3 linked regions of the Homo sapiens genome follow. The protein of the gene in region 1 purifies or fractionates together with the protein of each later gene. This does not show direct contact. Each region holds a gene or a part of one and is shown on either strand. Other genes may lie near its edges.

Region 1 (7,702 bases):
TACTATTACAGTGCTGCTAAAAACTTTTACATGTAGGCTATACATGTCTTCTGAAATACATTAAGTTTTCTAGTATATAACTAGGAAGATTTTACAGAGTATTAGGGTATTAATATCTTTTAGGTCATATTCCTTTCAAAGCTTTTTAAGAGATGAAGGCTTATATTTAGAGTACTTTAGGAAGCTCAACATCACAAAAATATGAAGTATAGAATGGGAGAGACTTAGGGCAATGAGGAAAATCTTAAAACCAGTCCAAGCCTGAGACAGAGGCCCTGAACATGAGTGTTTCACAGGGCAGTGATGTGAAAACTGAAAGGAAAGGGTGAATGTAAGAAATCTTCTAAGAGAAGATTTACTAGGGCTTTTTAACCATATTATGAAAAAAAAAACACTTTAAGACATAGCTCATTCATTCGAAGGTTTCTAATACGTTACAGATTTATGCTGAGCCTTGGTGAAAAAGTGAACAAGATAGTCTCTGCCTTCATAGAGCTTAGAAATATTAAGGGGGCCGGGCGCGGTGGCTCACGCCTGTAATCCCAGCACTTTGGGAGGCCGAGGCGGGCGGATCACGAGGTCAGGAGATCGAGACCATCCCGGCTAAAACGGTGAAACCCCGTCTCTACTAAAAATACAAAAAATTAGCCGGGCGTAGTGGCGGGCGCCTGTAGTCCCAGCTACTTGGGAGGCTGAGGCAGGAGAATGGCGTGAACCCGGCAGGCGGAGCTTGCAGTGAGCCGAGATCCCGCCACTGCACTCCAGCCTGGGCGACAGAGCGAGACTCCGTCTCAAAAAAAAAAAAAAAAAAAAAAAAAAAATTAAGGGAAGGGGGGAATGGAGGGGAATTCAGTGAATAAGGAGGCAATTATGTCACAGGGTGACATATTCAATAGGAGATGCACAAAATGCTATGGAGAACCTAAGAGGGACATCTAGCCAGAGGAGTCACAGTAAAAAAGTACCTATTCCAAGGGGCTAAAACACTTGGCACCTTTGAAGTAACATTAGTTCATTGTGCGGGGCCAATTTGGCAGGCTGGAAAGGTTGGCAAGATCCAGATGCTACAGGTCCTTGTAATTCATGTTAAGGAATTTGGATTTTAACCCATAGGGATGCCACTGAAAGGTGTGACGCAGTCGGATTGACATTTATAAAGATCATTAAGGCTAACATGCAACGAATAAATTAAAGGGCAGCAAGACTCCAGATTAGTCAGGAGGCTTTTAGAGTATTACAAATGGTTGGGATCACAGAAGCAGGATTTGGGGGGATGGTAACAGACGAAGTTTCAGACATGTTAAGTTTTAAGTTGTAGGACATCAAAATAGAAATTACACAGGTGTGTAGCTAAAGATGGACAAAGGGGGAAGGAGGAGGGAGCCTTAAAAAGAAGCCAGAGAAGCAGGTGGAAAAATCAGAAGAAAAATGTAATAGAAGCCAAAAGAACAGTGTTTCAGAAAGGGAAAATGGTCAGGGATAGGAGTGAAACTATCCCTAGATTCAGCAACAAGGTTGCTGGTATTAATTCTCACTCCTGAGCTTCAGATCATTTTCTCCAGTGATCTACTGACCTACCAGTGAGCAATACGGGAAAGGCCCGAGCGGCACGTTTGAAATACATTGTTTTGGACAAGAAATTTGTTCATCTTCTCAGCAGAGCAGCCTCTGAATAACTGTGGGGAAACGCCAAAAATAAATTCCTTTATAAAATTACTTCCGAGCAAAAAACGGGAATAAACTTACAGTCTACAAAGTTTTTTAAAAAACAAAAGCAGTTATTTCTTATTTTTACATAAAAGGTCACGAAGTGGCCCAAGTCTGTACCTGTCTCTAGCAACAACTAGGAATATTATTTCCCGGAAACAGTATCATTTTATTTACATTTCTTAACTTTTTCCAAACTTCTAATACAGTCATATATTTGTTCTAGCCCTTCTATTTAACTGTAAGGTTTAAAAATATATTTCTCAAACTTTTCCAGTAAGAAACTTCTAGTGTAAGTGCATAAACCGCCCTTCACGAAACTACCAAGTTCACAAACTTGTGGTTTCGAGTATCCCTGTACACTCTAAACGTTCTTAGTTTGAGAAATAGTCTTGGAGGACAGAGATTTTATTCTTACTTCCTACGCAGTGGTTTACAAACAGACCTCAAAAAAAAAGTGTTTAAGATAGGAGCGCTCCCTGCCAACTGGCTGGAGGACTTTGGCTCGTGGGGAAGGGGAATCTACTGACGAAAGCCCCACGTGTCGGGCATTTTACAGACGGGACATCCTTTAATGGCAACAGGTAGGTGGTTCCGGCCCTGTTTCACAGGTGACAGGTATTTCTCCATTTTCAGGTGAGGTAGATGAGCGTCAGGAAGGTAAGATAACTTGGTAGGAGGTCACAGAGACAATCAGGGGGGCGTGTCTTAGCGTCAAAGCCTTGTTTCAAAGGCTAACTTTCCATCTCACTTGAGAAATGGGAATCTAACGCAGAGGGGGCCGGGCATCATTAACTCCCAAGATGAGAGGCAACCCATACGAGAAGCAAGTGACCCAGCCCCTACCTCGAAGACATTTGCTCTTGATCATGAGGCCCCAATGCCTCAGGAGAAGAGGCACCGGCAGCCCGCAAAATCCCATGACACCAGAGGTCACGCCATTTTGTGACTGGGATGGTTAGTTACCTAAATACCCGGTGATAATTGTGACTGGGATCTTGGCGCCGAGGCCAGACTTTTCCTCCTCCTCGCTTTGCGTCGTCTCCATGGGAACCAATTCAGGACAATCCTCCTCCGCAGGATCCTCCTCCTCATCCGCAGATCCAACAGCCGGTAACATTCCGGCCTACAGCACGTCCCTACCTCAGCTGAACCGCTGGGACCAACACGCCGTACCGCAGCCGCGCACGCCCAGCACGCCACTCCCGGCCTGCCCGGGGCCTGACGTCATCACATCGCGACGCTCGCTGATCCCGCCCGGATTACCTGGGCTCTGGACGAGAAGCGCCTCGTCCCTTAGCCACACCCCCCGGGGAGGTGGGCTCTCCCCGACGACAGCTGGACACGCCCCTGGGCGTGTTCTGTGAACCTGAGCGACGCTGCGGAGAGTCCTTAGGGCGCACTAACCACCTGTCTGAAGGTGTCACTGGCGCCTAGAGCCTTAATAAGCTACTGGCTGTAGGTAGAGCTGAGGCCAGCCTGCTGGAAATCTGGAGTGGGTAGCCTGACCTAACCAGTTCCCACAGGGCATAGATTTTATCAACTTGATTTTTTAGTCTCGTTAAAAGAAAAAGTTTTAATTCATAGGGGAAAGAATGGAAGGTTATAACATTACAATTTTAATTGTAATTTTTATACCTGAAGGATAACCAGTGACAATTTTTTCTTTTTTTATTATTACATATTATATATGTAATTCCAAATTTTTAGTATTCATGCATCACTTTTATTTACTTTTTTCTCATTATTTATTTGGACCTCAGGTAACCTAAGTTCATTAATCGTATTTGCTGGTGCATGACACTCTCATCACTAATCCATAGATAGCCCTTCTTTCTAATATAAATTTATAGTGAACTCCTTTGACCTCATTCCTAACCTAAAAGCATTACCAGTAAGTTACACGTACCTATGTGCACCGCCCCTGCTTCCAATCCACAGCCTGCCCCATAAGATAGTAACAACAGTCATGAATTGGTTCTGGATTGCTGATCATTCCCTTTTAGTTTTATCACATATCCCACGTATGTACTTACAGAATATGTTGTTTAATTTTGGGTGTTTTTGAGCTTCATAAAATTATCCATATAATATATAAACTCCTGAGGCTTGCTATATTTTTCAGCATCACTGCTGTCTTGTATTCTATTGTGTGGCTACACGGCAATTTATTCATTTCCTCTCAATTGTTCCAGGTTTTGCTCTTATGAACAGGGCTGCTATGAACATTTTTCCTGACATATGTGTGTGCAACTTCCTCTTGAGTGTCTGTGTAAGAGCTGAATTGCTGGGTCCTAGATTATTCAAATGTTTTACTTCACAAGAAAATGCACAATTATTTTTCAAAATGTTTGTACAAATTGATACATTTTCCCAGCAAATTATAAGAGATCTCATTGGTCTGTTATGTCAATATTATCAGGCATGCATTTTTCACCAATCAATTGAGTACAAAAGAAGACTTCATTGTGATCTTCATTTGCATTTCCTTGATTACTAACAAGGTTGAGAATCTTTTCATGTGTTTTGGCAATATTTAATTCTTAGAATGACCCTGTAGAGTGTTATCCCTCTTTCAAACATGAGGCACCAAGAGTTAAGTTACTTGTCCAGGTTAGGTCATAAAAATCTATCTGATGCACAAGTAGAATGTTTTACTACTATCCTGATGCCAAATAAAAGGTTGACTTTTCCTTCCTTCTCTGAAATTCCCCATATAATATACTGTGTGTATTCCATTAGTTCTACTGATAAGGACATATAACTTGAAAGTATTTATCACGCCTTTTGCAGAACACAGTTAAGACAGAGGGTTTATATTTGTGCAAATGAGTATATTATATTCACACATACACTCGGTCTGAGAAATCAGGTCTTGAATGCTTTGCCAGCTTTGACAATGTAACCATGAACCAGCTGAGGAAGAAATAAGGCAAATACCTTAGGCATGGTGGTTCAGTTCACTTTATTCTACCAAAGGAGAGAAGCTGTGATGGGTAGCCCAAAATAGATAGCTTACGCCCTAAACACAATGGTTCATAAGCTTTTTCGTTTCAGGAATGCTATGAAGTATTGATTTTTTTGGCAACCTAAGGGAAGGAGTAACATTGCACCCACAGGCATCACACTATTTGCTTGATGTCCCTTCAGCACTGCATTACTGCCTGAATAGCAGCTATTACAGCCCTCACCACGTTCTTTGACATATTTTTTAAAGTACATTCTTGTGGGTTCCCAATATGGCACTGGCTGAATGTTATACTAAAATCCCTCTTTCTGTGTTTTGAGACAGGGTCTCACTCTGTCGCCCAGCATGGATTGCATTGGCACGATCACAGCTCACTGCAGTCCTAAACTCCTGGGCTCAGGTGATCCTCCCATCTCAGCCTCCCAAGTAGCTGGGACTCCAGTCATATGCCATTATATCTGGCTAATTTTTCTTTTTCTTTTTGGTAGAGACAGGGTCTCACTATGTTGTCCAGTCTGGTCTAAAGTCTCATCTCTAACAATGAGCAACCTGTAACTTATGAGGCCAGCTCAGTCAAGTTGACCAAATAGCATTGTTGTAACAGTATGTAGCCTCAGTGAGAGCAAAATAAGTTTTACACATTGGCCAAAAATTAAATGCACCACAAATATCTATCAACTGATAGACAACCAAAATGTGACAAATGGATAAACAAAATATGATCTATCCGTACAATGGAAAATTATTTGGCAATAAACAGGAAAAAGGACTGATACCTGCTACAACATGAACCAATCTTGAAAACATTATGGTAAGTGAAAAAAGCTATTCACAAAAGACCACACGTTGTATGATCCCATTTACATAAAATATCCAAAATAGGCAAATCTATAGAAACAGAAAGTACATTAATGGTTCCCAGGAGTGGAGGGCTGGGGAGAGACTACAGTGGTTTTTGGGCGGTGATGAAAATGTTCTAAAATTGATTATGGTGATGGTAGTACAACTCTGATTATACTGAAAACCATTGACTTGTACACTTTAAATTGGTGAATTGTATCATATGTGAAATTTATCTCAATAAAGCTGCTATTCTTAAAAGAAATAAACACCTATCTGTGCATCAAAATGGGGTGCCTGTGTACATTTGTAGAGAAACACTGTCTTCAGCAGTTTCAAGTTCTGGCCTCAGGCACAAGTATAAAGATTACAGCTTGATAAAATTTTTCCTTTAGTCTGTTCCATATTCCTCTTCAGTTAAATTTTTATCTATGGATTCTGTGGAGTCCTGTCATTTTATTTTCTCAGATAGAGTTGTAATTTCAGTTCTCCCAAAATAGCTGGTCATGACTTTTTATTTTTATTTCTTTTTTCTTTTTGAGATGGAGTCTTGATCTGTTGCTGAGGCTGGAGTGCAGTGGCACGATCTTGGCTCACTGAAACCTCTGCCTCCGGGTTCAAGCGATTCTCCTGCCTCAGCCTCCTGAGTAGCTGGGATTACAGGTATGCACCACCACGCCCAGCTAATTTTTGTATTTTTAGTAGAGACGAGGTTTCACCACGTTAGCCAGGCTGGTCTTGAACTCCTGACCTCCTGATCCATCCACCTCAGCCTCCTAAAGAGCTGGGATTACAGGCGTGAGCCACTGTGCCGGGCTTTTTTTTTTTTTTTTTTTAACTTATAAGAGGGTTAAATTGTTAAATTGTTAAATTGAAAATGCCTTTTTAAATAAGTATGAAATTTCTTAATTATAATATTTTAGAATCTATTACAGTTTCTGATGTAACTTAAAAATTCCTCCTCATTTAGCTTTGCTATTTTGTCTCATTTACTTTAGGGTAAAACAACAACAACAACAATAGTAATGTTTTGAGCCCCTAAGCATCTGATAGGCAACTGTGTTAAGCACATTAAATGCATTATCCCATTTAACTCTCCAAGGTAAATACTATTTGTGTGCCCATTTTATAGATGAGGAAATTGAGGCTTAGAAAAGATAAATACCTTGCTCAAAGTCATACAATCAGTAAATGGCAGCCCTTGGGCTCAATCCAAACCTGCCTGACACTAAATCTCCTGCTCTTTTAAACCAGAAGATCTGCAAACTTTTCTGTAAAACTAGATGATAAATATCTTAGTCTTTACAGATCAAAAAGCAAATTTGAGGACATTGTGTAGGTACTTATATAATATAAGAGAGAGAGCAAATGTCTACAAGTTTGAAATTTGAATTTCATGTATTAAACAAAATTATGAGAGGTCATTGTTTTGGACTGAGCTCCTGCACTAATCCCAAGCAGACCAGACCAAACCAAAATGGAGTCACTCATGCTAAGCACCACAAAATCAAACTAAAACTTTAAAAAACAGGTCCCAAAATAGATGAGTTTTTTTTTTTCTTCTCCTGAAGACAGAAGATTCCAGTATAATAAGGAAGTCCCCTCTGCTCTATCCTTTACAGAAAAGTAACCCAAAGTAACAACAGATTACTTACAAGAAAGCAATCTCAGCCAGACACAGTGGCTCATGCCTGTAATCCCAGCACTTTGGAAAGCCAGGGCGGGTGGATCACCTGAGGTCAGGAGCTTGAGATCAGCTTGGCCAACGTGGCAAAACCCCATCTATACTAAAAATACAAAAATTAGCTGGGTGTGGTGGCACATGCCTGTAGTCCCAGCTACTCGGGAGGTTGAGGCAGAAGAATTGCTTGAACCCGAAAGGTGAGGTTGCAGTGAGCCAAGATTGTGCCACTGCACTCCATCCTGGGTGACAAAAAAATAAAAAAGTAATCTGATGTTAACCAATCAGTTTTTTTTTTCTATACTGTTTCCTTGTTCCCACCTTACAAAATCCAGTGTTCTGCTATTTTCCAATGGCATTAGAGACCAAATAACTCTATTTATGATGATAAAAAGTGATGTCAATGCCTAAAGTTTTGGGCAACCTCAAAATTAATCATCCTCTCAAAATTGACAGGTTGACCAAAAGGAGGAATTGTTAAATTCATTGTGGCCTAAAGCTGCCTC
Region 2 (7,030 bases), on another chromosome or scaffold:
TCCATATATATAATTTAAAAAATCTGGTGCAACACATATTGCTAAGTTTCAAAGATTCTCATTTCCAATGTTCACCTGGAAAGCAGATGGCTCTTGATGGCTGTTTTGCGGCAGTGATAAAAGCAACTACAAGCAAGTTTAAGTAAAAGTGCTCAAAGGGCAAATGAGAAAACAGGTGTGCAGGGGGAGGGGGCTGAAGAGTTGAGCAATGTTTCCTTTATTCTTCTCAGCTTTTTCAGACCCAAGACAAGTTCTTGAGGACACACATCAAATGCTGTAGTCCTTTCTTATCTATAGTCAAAACAAAACAAGTGATTAAAAAAAGGTTCCTCTTCCTTTCTGTACTCTCAATAAAATGCATAGCACAGTAAGAAGGTACTGAGATGTGCCATCTTGGGAGAAATTAAAATTGAGACATGAAGTGAGGCCGTGCACTGTCAAGTCGCCGGGTTAGGATTTCACAGCCAGTGTCTGTGACCAGGAGGGTGTGCTCAAACTGAGCAGACCGCTTTCCGTCTCTTGTCACCGCAGTCCAACCATCTGGCCAGGTTTCATCCTGCCATCCGCCTTCAACAAACAAAAACAATTTCTTAGTTCACTCAGTTTTCTAAATGAACTCTATCAAGAAGAAAGCCAAGGAAAAAATTCACTACTAAGATCCTTATTTACATGCCAATTGTTTTAGCTAATGCCTTTCCAACTTCATTTTGGTCTTCAGTATGTTTGATGTTTAAATTTCATCAGATGTATTACAACCACATTTTTTATATATCCCAAATATCAAATCAAGATGGAATTTCCAAAATAAAGGCGCTGGATTTCATTTTAACAACATATTGATACCAATCACCACAACTTTGAGTAACAACCTTAATTAATTATATGTATCATTATATGTATCAAAGCATCACTATGTACCCTATGAATATGTACAATAATTGTCCATTTTAAAACAGGAAATTTTTTAAAAAGGACATTCTGCAATATGCTACAACACAGATGAACCTTGAGAACATAATGCTAAGTGAAATAAGCCAGTCATAAAAAAGCATATGCTTGGCCAGGCGCGGTGGCACACGCCTGTAATCCCAGCACTTTGGGAGGCCGAGGCGGGCAGATCACAAGGTCAGGAGATTGAGACCATCCTAGCTAACACAGTGAAACCCCATCTCTACTAAAAATACAAAAAATCACCCGGGCATGGTGTTGGGCGCCTGTAGTCCCAGCTACTCGGGAAGCTGAGTCAGAAGAATGGCATGAACCTGGGAGGCAGAGCTTGCAGTGAGCTGAGATCGCGCCACTGCATTCCAGCCTGGGCGACAGACCAAGACTCCGTCTCAAAAAAAAAAAAAAAAAAAAAGCATGTGCTTAATGATTCCACTTCTATGAGGTAGAGTACAGTAGTCAAAATCATGGAGATAGAAAGCAGAACAGTGGGTGCCAAGGTCTGGGAGTAGTGAGCAATAGGAAGGGAATGTTTAATGGGTTGAGTTTCAGTTTTACAAGATGAAAAGACTTTTGGAGATGGATGGTGGTAATGGGTGCACAACGTTATGAATGTATTTAATAATATTGAACTGTACATTTAAAAATGAGATGTGTATTTTACAATTAAAAAATCAGAAAAAAAACTTGAATGAATTTAGCTCTTTCCTAGTATAACTTGGGCATCTGACAAAACTATACTCAGCATATATTGTGAAGGAAATCATGTAAATGTTTACAGTTTTATTACAGCATTCAATTCCTGATATAATTTCAAAATGGTAGGCACACAAACAGATGGTGAGAACAGATTATACAGTGAAATTTTTGTGAACTATACCCCTGGAATCAGAAAGAGGGGCAAAAGAAAGACTGGTGTGAGAGCATAAGAAAAATATGAAGCAGAATGGTCTGGACAGGAGTTGAAACCAGAGAAGGGAAGCAAAGGGACAGTGAATCTGGGAGGCCATGAAAGAAAACTCAGAGAAAGGAGGGAAAGGGGGTGAAGGGGTCATAATGAGGGAAAGCAGAAAGCAAAGGCCCAAGAGAATGTGAAGCAGAGGTGGAATGAGAAAGGCAATTCTAGATACTACTGTAAAAGATGTATTTGCGAGCTTTCTTCTTTCAAAATTAGATGTTAAAAAAAAATCAATACTTTCTTCATTTTGAGTAATCTTTAGGTGAAACATATTACCTCTAGGACTCACTGCCTCAGACAGACAAATCCCAGAACATAAACTCTGTAGTGAAGTAAACTACTTTTGCAATATTAAATCCCAGGCTAAAAAGAAAATACGAGGCGGCCTAAAAAAGTTAACTCATGCCTCATCAAGCAACTAAAGATGAGTACATCGATGTTTTTCAATGTAATGGCCTTTACACAAATGGCCTTTACACAAATTTAAAACATTACTACTGTAATTTTATTGTGATCTGATAAAACAGGATTTTTAGTAATGTCAAGTCAAACTTATTTGGCTATTCTGAGGAAATTCTCCTGCAGATTTGAGACTTTCTAGTCCAGGGATTTAACCTAGCTGAGTTACACTTCAAGTATATCTGCTATAATTTGATGATTAATTACCTGTGCTGGCTGTATAGAAAGTTATTTGCTTACTGAAAACACTACATCATGGCTCACCAACCAGGTGCTAGTTAATGGAAATACGTAGCCAAAATGACAATTTCCTCCCACTATCTTTCTTTTCACTGCTAAATACTTACCATCTTTACAACTGGTTGCACGTGATCAGAACTTTATCCTTATTATAAGAGGATGACAAAAACTTTACTGCACATTTGTGCAGTCTTTTAAAGTATATAACATAACATAAATCATCTCAGTCTAGCAGCCCTGGGTGTTGGCAAGATAGAGATTCTAATTTTCATTTTACAGAAAACGCAATAAGGAACCAGCTTTAGAAGGCAGCCTCTAAAGTGACTTCAGTGATCCCCAGCCTCCTGGCATGCAGGCCCTTGTGTGAGCTCCTGCTCCCCTTGAGTGCGGGCTGGATTCAGTGAATCACTTCTAAGAAAGACAATATAGAAGTCACTCCCAAGACTGGGTTATAAAAAGACTGGAAGGATCAAGAGAGGGAGTATCCTTTAAAACAGGGCTCAGGACACACAAGCTCTACTGCTACTGCCTCACTTTGCATCCCCTAACCAGAAAGCTCCATTACCAGAATCACTCTGAAAATCTCGGTGAGGAGCCCTAATTGTGACTCCCAGTCTCCTATCACTGCTACAAGCCTGTCTGGAAGAGATGACAACAGTGGGGAGGCTGCCAGAGCCAAGTGTGCTTTCCAAGTGTCCTTGGTGTGCTTTCCCCACAATAGCTATATGATGCCACGTGATGACATGAGTACAGACCATGAAGGGTCAGAACAGCTCATGAGCTGAGTCTGACAAATTCTGCCAAGTAACAAGCTAAGTTACAGGCAAGCTACCCACCCTCTTCAAGGACCAGTTTCCTAGTTTCTATAATGGGGTAACACCTACCTTATAAATTGTGAAGAATTAAATCATATAATCATGTCTGCCTCGAACTGGGTGGCTCGTCAATGCTCTGCTCTGTTCCCTCCTCTTCCCTCTCCTACATCAAGCAAGAACGTCCGCACAGACTTGACCTGGGCACCTCATTATTACAATGCACCCTTTGACATGATCTTTATGAAAAGGGACCAGAATTCAAGCATTTCAGCATCTCCTGACAGAAGACTACCACGCAGAACCCATGCCGTTCTTGCCAACCCTCACAATTTTCAGTTCTTCACGATACTGAATCAAGTTTGAGGTGGGACAGGGAGTGAGTAGGAAGCAAAAAGCAAGCAGGTAGAAAAGACCACTGACATGATGAATTACCTAAAATACATATAAATTCAATTGAAAAATATCATGGCATCCTTTTTTCTCACCTTCACAAATCATTGGCTCAATTGTAAATACATGGCCCGACTTCATCACTCCAACTGCTTTATTTTCTGAAATCAAAGAAAAAAATCTCAAAAGGTAGCAAAACCAACAGTGTACTGTTGAACAGCTAACTAGAAAGAGTACATAACTCAAATTCCCATCAGTGATTGTTAAATTAATTACCCTGATTCCCTTTCTTAAAGTTCAACAAACAGGTATTATACTGGCAGCCATCTAATATGGTGCACGTATTGTCCTAGGCACATTTCAATTACGCTTATGTGTTCTCTAGGAAAACAGAGGTATTTGTAGGCTGTATTTCAGAGATGAGTATCACTTCTATAAAAAGAAAAGTGGCAAATAAAGAATAAAAGAAAAGTGCCTTGATTTCTATTACCTCATGATTAGAATTGCAATCACAGAACCAAGAGTTCCACTACTCATCCGGGTAGAGAAGCTCAAAGGAGAATGACAGATGTTTCAGATTATGCCAGAAATTTCCCACCGCTTTGGGGGGTAAGCATGTGTTTGCACACAGGTGCACAGCCCATAGAAACTACATGATTTTCATAATGTTTCATAAGCTGTTGTGTTTTTCTCATCTTCAAAGAAGAACAAAATCTATGCACATTAACCTACTTTTTAAAAAATAAGCTGGGTGCGGTGGCTCATGCCTATAATCCCAGCACTTTGGGAAGCCGAGGCAGGTGGATCACCTGAGGCAGGTCAGGAGTTTGAGACCAGCCTGGCCAACATGGCGGAACCTGTCTCTACTAAAAATACAAAAATTAGCCAGGTGTGGTGGCGTGCACCTGAAATCCTAGCTACTCAAGAGGCTGAAGCAGGGAATCACTGGAACCCAGAAGACAGAAGTTGAAGTGAGCTGAGATCAATTGCGCCACTGCACTCCAGCCTGGGCGATTGAGCAAGACTCTCTCAAAAATAAAAACAAGGCCGGGCGCAGTGGCTCACACCTGTAATCTCAGCACTTTGAGAGGCCGAGGTTGGTGGATCACGAGGTCAGGAGATCGAGACCATCCTGGCCAACATGGTGAAACCCTGTCTCTACTAAAAATACAAAAAATTAGCTGGGCGTGGTGGCGGGGGCCTGTAGTCCCAGCTACCGGGAGGCTGAGGCAGGAGAATGGCATGAACCCGGGAGGCTGAGCTTGCAGTGAGCCGAGATTGTGCCATGCACTCCAGCCTGGGCGACAGAGCAAGACTCCGTCTCAAAAACAAACAAACAAACAAGCAAACAAAAAAAACAAAAAACAAAACAAAAAACAAACAACTAAGGAGACCATTATTTTTTAATTCAAAGCAAAAAAGCAAACTCCATTTCTCTCTCCAAGTACTTTTTAGCTTCTTTGTCCAAGTTCACTAATGTAAGTTTTTTTCAGGATCATCATGAGCAATACAACAATAAATTACAGTGACCAGACCTGCCATACCCCTCAAAAATGCCAAAAATGTTAAAACTAGGAATAGGCTTTTTTAGACAAAAATGGAGAACTAATTTAAATTCCAAGTTAAACAAAACCTAATAAGGGTATCAGCTAAGTGAATGACTGCAATGCCCAACCTGACCACCAGATGGCTAATACATCAGCTTTTCAGGGTTCCTCTGCGAGGTTGTTCTGATCTGCAACTTTGTTATGAATGGCAAATTTGCCCGCCCTTTGAGGCTGACTCAACTAAACTCTCCTCTTTCCAGGAATGGTCTAACCTCCCCTACACGTTTATATTCCTGCATAACTTTCCAGATGAATAGCTATCGTGCTGCTTTCCACTATCTTAGGTATTGCCAAAATACACTTACTGCAGATTTCAAATCTGGAGCTTCTAAACTGTTATAAAATCCTAAGGTCATTTGAAAAAAGGAAGAAAAGAAAAACAAACATTTGACTTTTAATTTCTAAATTCATAAACTTTCAAAATGACATGCTTAATACATATACAGAATTGGTCTGTATTTCCTTGGAGAAACCAAAAAGAAAACGTCAAGAATGTCAGTGTGGTGTCACAGAAAGTAAAAAGGATGAAAGACTCTTGAACTCTGCCGTCCAGAACAGCAGCATTGGCCATGTATAGCTAGAAAGTACTTGAAAAGTGACCAATCAGAACTGAGGCTATCAGTGCAAAAGCCCTTTGGATTTCAAAGACTAAAACAACATGTAACATATCTCTCAATAATTTTTACACTGATTAAAGTTTCAGTTTCCCAACATACCTCACTCAACAAATACACATTATCTGAGTGACTATACTATCGCAGACACTCTTAGGTACTTTTTAAAAAATTTGTACCTGATCTATAGTCTCTCACAGAATGACTGTAATATGCAGGCATGCCTTGTTTTATTGCATTTCACTATATTATGCTTCACAGATACTGCTTCCTTCTTTCTTTTCTCTTTTTTTTTTTTTTTTGAGATGGACTCTTGCTCTGTTGTCCAGGCTGGAGTGCAGTGGCACGATCTCGGCTCACTGCAACCTCCACCTTCCAGGTTCAAGTGATCCTCCCACCTCAGGCTCCTGAGTAGCTGGGGACTACAGTTGCATGCACCATGGCCGGCTAATTTTTGTATTTTTAGTAGAAGCGTGGTTTCACCATTTTGGCCAGGCTGGTCTAGAACTCCTGACCTCAAATGATCCGCCTGCTTCAGCCTCCCAAGGTGCTGGAATTACAGGTATGAGCCACCACATCTGACCAGATGCTTTTTTTTTTAAAAATAAATTGAAGATTTGTGGCAACCCTGCTCTGAGCAAGTCTAACAATGTCATTTTTCCAACAGTGCATGTTCACTTCATGTCTCTGTGTCACAATTTGGTAATTTTCACAATCTTTCAAACATGTTCATTATTATCACACCAGTTATAGTGATCTGTGATCAATGGTCTTTGATGTTAAAATTTTAATTGTTTTGGAGCACCACAAACTGTGCCCATGTAAAGACGGCAAACAAATGTTTGTGTGTGTTCTGAAGGCTCCATCAGCCTGCCCCACTTCTCTCTCCCTCTCCTCAGGCCTCCCTATTCCCTGAAACACAATACTGAAATTAGGCCACTTAATAGCCCTAGAATGGCCTCTAAGTGTTTAACTGAAAGGAAGAGTCACATGTCTCTCACT
Region 3 (5,905 bases), on another chromosome or scaffold:
ACAGATGTTCTGCCAGGGCAGGTGTCTATGCAGATAAGCCTGGGTATCGTGTAGACCCTCACTGCCTGCTCTTCTCCATGCTATGCTCCTGCAGTGTGGATTTTGTGAAGTGGTCCTCGCAGGGGATGCTGCGGATGAGTCCAGATGCCATGAACGCCCTTTTTAAGCCGACCATCGATAGCATCATTGAGCATCTCCGTAAGTATCAGCCAGGCTCGGCCACTCGGCGAGGCAGAGCTGAGAAAGGGGATGGGCTTTCCCAGCATCACCAGCTGGTGCCTGTGGAGTCAGGTTGGCCTGGATCTGGGAGCCACAGGCAAGGGCCCTGCAGGACTGGGCAGGGCTTGGGCATGTATGGGAGAGGTTACTGGGCATAGGCTCTGGATCCCTCTCCTCGTACTGCAAAGCTGCTGAGAGCTTGTCTCACCCAAGCTTTCCGTTTGGCCTCAAAAGTCAGAGAGCTGGTAATGACAAAGAGGAAGAATTAAATAAACAAACAAAACTTTAAAACAACAAAAAAGATCAGAGAGCTGGAAGCTCTGAGGCAATGTTACCTGAGAGTGGCAGGCCCTAGGAAATGCATATTCTTTGCTTTACTGGGACATGTTAGACATCCTCACCCTGCTAGGGGAGAAGGAACTGTTGTGTGAATCAAAGGAAGTTCTGCAAGCAAATGGAATCTGGCTATGTCATTTTCCTGCTACATTGGTGGCAGTACCCAGGGACACATAGCAAACTCACCAGGACCTCTTTCAGTATCCTGTCCCCCGCCTACCAAATCAGACTCTCTAGGAGTGGAATGGGATTTTTATGAAAATCAGAGAATTCTATTTATAACAACCTGCCTTGACTTACCCAACAGAACCACAGGTTTGGAGAGCTTTAGGAGTATTCATTTATGCAAACCAAATTCTACTTAAAATTATCACCATGTATCTGTTAAAATGCATTTCTACTTAGCAGCAGCTCTGGCTTTTATTCCGGAACATATTGGTGTGCAAACTCCCTTTCTTTAAAAGACCAGTTCTGCAAAGATTCTGTTCAAGGAGCTCAGAGTAAGCCTGCCCTCCCAGTGGCCCAAGTGGCTTTATCCGTTCCCCACAGATGCAGGCAGCCCAGTTCCCCCTTCCTTGCTGGCTTTTGGTGACAGGACATTCTCCCTGCCTCTTCCCTTCCAGGGGACCTGTTTCAGAAGCCCGAGGTGTCCACCGTCAAGTTCCTCTTTCTGGTGGGCGGCTTTGCCGAGGCGCCCCTGCTGCAGCAGGCGGTGCAGGCTGCTTTTGGGGACCAGTGCCGGATCATCATCCCCCAGGACGTGGGCCTCACCATCCTCAAGGGTGCCGTCCTCTTTGGCCTGGACCCCGCGGTCATCAAGGTGCGCCGGTCGCCGCTCACCTACGGGGTAGGCGTGCTGAACCGCTACGTGGAGGGCAAGCACCCGCCTGAGAAGCTGCTGGTGAAGGATGGCACTCGGTGGTGCACCGACGTCTTTGACAAGTTCATCTCTGCCGACCAGTCTGTGGCTCTGGGTGAGCTGGTCAAGCGTAGCTACACCCCGGCCAAGCCCTCCCAGCTGGTCATTGTCATCAACATCTACAGCTCTGAGCACGACAACGTCAGCTTCATCACTGATCCCGGGGTGAAGAAGTGTGGCACGCTCCGCCTGGATCTCACAGGGACCAGTGGCACTGCGGTGCCCGCCCGGAGGGAGATCCAGACCCTTATGCAGTTCGGGGACACCGAGATCAAAGCCACAGCCATTGATATAGCCACTTCGAAGAGTGTCAAAGTTGGGATCGACTTCTTAAATTACTAACCCTCCCGCCCCGCTGCCTGTCCCCTTGGACTCAACTTATCTGCATCTGCTGACCTCAACCTTGACTGTTCTTTCCCTAACCTTGACCCTCACCATTGCCCATGTGAATTTCAGCAGGGAAGATGAGAACAATCAGGGCTAGAAATAATTAGTGACTTTTGAGGGCACACTGGAGTCAGAAAAACAGAAATTAAGATTAAGGTTTAGGCATAGAAAATTAAAGGATCCTGGAGGAGCAGCTAGTTTTCATAGGTACAAAAGTGGTGAAATGGCCACGGAGAAGGGAATCAGTACATTTCTGCAGCAGTGGTTGCGCTGCTTTGAACAGATCTCCGTTATGTAGAATTTAGGATGCCCTATTGCTGTCTTTCTAGATTTAAAATGAGATCTTTGAACCAGGAGGAGATCTTCATCTGAGACTTGTCTTTCTAAATTTTTTGGATGGCCATCAATATAAAATGCCACCCATCTGCAGTTAATTTCTTTTCCTCATCATGTGATTAAAAGTGGTGATTCAGTGGGAACTGGGAATGTTTTTAGCTGGTGGTAGAAGGCTGCCTACACTGGGCACTGTTTTAGATTCTCATATCATTTAAACAGCAAGGAGGTTCAGGGAAGAATAACCGTAGCCTTGGGTAATCCACTAGGGCTTTTGTGAGTAGGAGAGCTGATACCTCACATTCTTAGCAGGTGAAAACTTGCCATGATGGAAACAGATAGTGAAGAGTTACTGACGTATCCCAAATTATATGCTGTGACATAAATTCCCAGCATGCCCAGCCCTGATTTCTGAGTTCATAAGTAATTCTAGTGAACCTTAGTAGGAATTCTGGGTAAGAAAATGAGGTTGCCATTGGTCTTGTTTGCATCACCAAGACCAGACATCCAGAAGAGCCCCTCACCTTGAAAAGCAGACAGATTTTAAATTAACCCCCTCCTTCCCACTCACCTTCATCTCCCTAAGAGTTTTGGCCATTTAATTCCACATTTTGAAAGGAATACATTGGTGAAATTTGGGAAGAGAATCTGTGCTATGCAATGTTTCATTAAAATCTTCAGTTTTTCAAGTCTCTCTAAAAATAATTTGTAGATCTATACTTGATGTATTAAGTCAGTTTTTTTTCACAGCGGGCCTGTGGCTCGCCTGCATCAGAATTGCCTGGGTGCGTGTTCAGAACAGGTTCCTGGATCTGAGCCCTTTTTAACTGAGGCCGACTCTTGGAGAGGGGCACCAGAATCTGCATTTGTAGTGTATACCACATCGTGGTTCAACTGAAATTGGAGAAATACTAACCTGAGATTTTGTTGAAGTTCACACACAGATCACAGCCCGCCCTCTGCAGGTGTCCCCTTTGGGCTCCTTTAGGAAGAGGGCTTCCATGAGAAGGTGACCCCATACCTTGCCCTCTTGGTCAATGGGATTGGGGCTCCACCTGGCTTGGAGATGGCCCTTTTAACCCTCACAGGAAGGGCCAGGGGAGGAAAAAAATTGCAAGAAAGCGACACCAAGAACGGAGCTGACTGAGGAACCAACTGGAGGGTCTTCACTCTCTCCTTCCCCAGTGTACAAAACCAGTTTTCTGCAACATTCAGGAGCCAAATGAGGAAAAAGAATCAAGAATCTGACTCACAGCCCATCTGATCTGTTCAAAGCTGTCTTTTCCACCTGCTGAAATTCATTAAATCACTGGAGGCATGCATAATGAATGGAGAATGAGTGAACTTCCAATGCAACTTGGATTCACAAACCCATTATCATAGCCAATATGCAGATTTTAAACAGCATTTCACATTTCATTTGACCATGTCTTCTTTTTCGCATCGCCTGCTGCAGAATTCCCTACTAGAATGTGAAACAACGAACAAACCACAGAACTTAGAGTGTGCTGGTTAGTCACATAACTTAGTAGCAGGATTGTGTATCCAGGCACAAAGGTGTCTTTGCTAATGTTCTCTTGCTACCTGCCCTGCTTCAAACGCTAAATGGTATGGGTCTTTCTTTGTTGCCAGCCATATTCTACAAATAAGACTTTTCAATATAGTTATGAGTAATATAATTTTATGTACATATAATGTTAGAATATTGTACAGAATCTTGGTTTCTACGATGCGCTTTTCTTGTTTCAAAAAGAGGAAAATGCTTGATTTTTGTTGATGATACTTTTGTTACTGTCCTTAATTTTCCATAGTTTGGTTTCTTAATTGTGCTCACTAAGCATCGATCTGTGCTGATGCCAAGCTATGGACTATGTACGCAAGACCGAGCAATAGACAGAGGTGCCTAGGGTCCAAACACACTGAACGCACGTGGACCGCCTGGATCAGGAGCCTCATCAGACCCTTCTCCATGCACATCCTTCCCAAACAGTCACAGATTCCATTGAAAGGAGCAGATTCTATCAGTTCTTCTGTGCAGACTTTAAGAGCTGAACGTTCTGGTTCTGGAAGCCATGTGACTGCGCAGAACAACCTAAGAAACCCTTTGTGTCCTGAGGGGTCGTTGACCTCTCCTTCCGGGTCGGAGCAGTCACTCTGAGGGCAAAGCGTGGTCCACTGTGTGTGATGTTTTCAGGATGCTAGGGTCAAAGAAAGAAACCAAGTGGTACATAAGCCCAGCTTTTCTGCTGGGCTAAGTGTAAGTGTGAGTAACATGGTCAAGCCCCTCTTTTTTGGGCTAATGTAAAGCCTTTCCTGCCTTGCATTAATGCTATCTCCCTGTGTACTGTTTCTCTTAAATGAGCAGATAGAAATCTGCAGTGTTGGCAGATAGGTGATGGAGAGGATGATAATTTTATCTTCTGGCCACAGAGCTGCAGCCCCAGTTGTCAGAGTCCTTAAATGAAACCCCCAAATCCATCCCTCCTTCCCTACCCCCACTGGAATATTCTAGAATAAGAGCACTGGATAAGTACACTTGAACACATTTTTCTAACCTTAGAAAATACCTACAAGGCCTGTTGTCTTGACCCATTACTCAATTGTCCCTGGCATATTATCTGATCTTCACGTTTCTTGGAAGCAGAATCATCAAGGCTTTCCTTTGTAACTGCCCTTTCCGTACACAGCAGGCATGAATAAATGCTGAGTAACAGACAAGTTACAGACAGGAGGGGAAAGAGGAGGAACCATACAACTGTTTTTGCAAAATGATGGCTGAGTCCAGATTATAGAGGTTGCCTTACCCTTAGAATGTTATTTAGACCAAGTTTAGCTTTTAGAGTCCAGGTCTGGTTAATTGCCAGGGTAGCAAAGAATCGCATGCACCAATGTAAACAGGAGTCAGAATGCATTATTAGTCAAAGATCGAATTTCACATTGTAGAGATGTATAGCTGTGATTAAGCTGCATATGTATGCTGGGAAACGGCTTGAGTGGATGGCTAATATAAAAGTTGTTGGCCATAATGCCACACCTCTCATCTGCTTGAAATATGGACCAGTATTCTAAAATATCAGCTACTGGGGTCTCATTCACTACAAGATAAATTCAAACTTCACAGAACTTTGCAGCAGTTCACCACCAGACGGGACTGTGTCTGCAAACTCTCTTGTCTTCACAGACGCCTAATAAAGCAAAACTCTGAATCTCATGTGGCCCAGATTTTTTTTCCCCCCATCCTGGGTTTGCAAACTGCATGATGGACACGTCAGTACTGATCTCCCTCTCTACCCCATCTCAGGTGGTGGAGAGAGAGTTTCAGTTTTTTCCAGGTGCTGTAAGTTTTCTTAAGTTATTCTAACAAGACTAGGCCCTTTGTTTGCTGGGAACCAAGGCCCCATCGATGGGCACAGAGCCCCTTTTCTCTGGAAGAAAGTGGTCTAGCCAGAGGGAGGGCAGGTAAGCAGAGTGACCACTGCCAATGCCACTGCACCCCAGTGTAAGTCATTAAAACATGCAGAAGGCCTGGCTGGGCTCTTGCCCCTGGGCATCCCAGCCGTCACGTGAAACTGGCTGTGTCCAGAGCCTACACCTGAGTCGCCCTCCACAGTTGGCTCTGAAAGCTTCCTGATGGCCCGAGGTATGTTCTAAATGGGGTGATAAAAGAGAGGTATAAATGGTGGTCGGCTCCACCAGCCTTCATTTGCAGTT

Evidence for each region.
Region 2: the proteins of ZNG1B (region 1) and METAP1 purify together in Homo sapiens (affinity purification with mass spectrometry; 3 studies listed by BioGRID and IntAct, with this or other methods). This does not show direct contact.
Region 3: the proteins of ZNG1B (region 1) and HSPA12A purify together in Homo sapiens (affinity purification with mass spectrometry; 3 studies listed by BioGRID and IntAct, with this or other methods). This does not show direct contact.

Annotation. Positions count from the first base shown.
Region 1 is NC_000002.12:113,432,994-113,440,695, reverse strand, and holds the start of ZNG1B (zinc-regulated GTPase metalloprotein activator 1B), read right to left. Parts: upstream 3,006-7,702; 5' UTR 2,828-3,005; coding exon 2,674-2,827; intron 1,677-2,673; exon of another isoform or gene 1,625-1,676; coding exon of another isoform or gene 1,579-1,624; intron 1-1,578. UniProt on the Homo sapiens protein: Zinc chaperone that directly transfers zinc cofactor to target metalloproteins, thereby activating them.
Region 2 is NC_000004.12:99,054,691-99,061,720, reverse strand, and holds part of METAP1 (methionine aminopeptidase 1), read right to left. Parts: intron 3,969-7,030; coding exon 3,903-3,968; intron 568-3,902; coding exon 404-567; 3' UTR 1-403. UniProt on the Homo sapiens protein: Cotranslationally removes the N-terminal methionine from nascent proteins. The N-terminal methionine is often cleaved when the second residue in the primary sequence is small and uncharged (Met-Ala-, Cys, Gly, Pro, Ser, Thr, or Val).
Region 3 is NC_000010.11:116,670,692-116,676,596, reverse strand, and holds the end of HSPA12A (heat shock 70 kDa protein 12A), read left to right. Parts: intron 1-94; coding exon 95-198; intron 199-1,178; coding exon 1,179-1,816; 3' UTR 1,817-5,405; downstream 5,406-5,905. UniProt on the Homo sapiens protein: Adapter protein for SORL1, but not SORT1. Delays SORL1 internalization and affects SORL1 subcellular localization.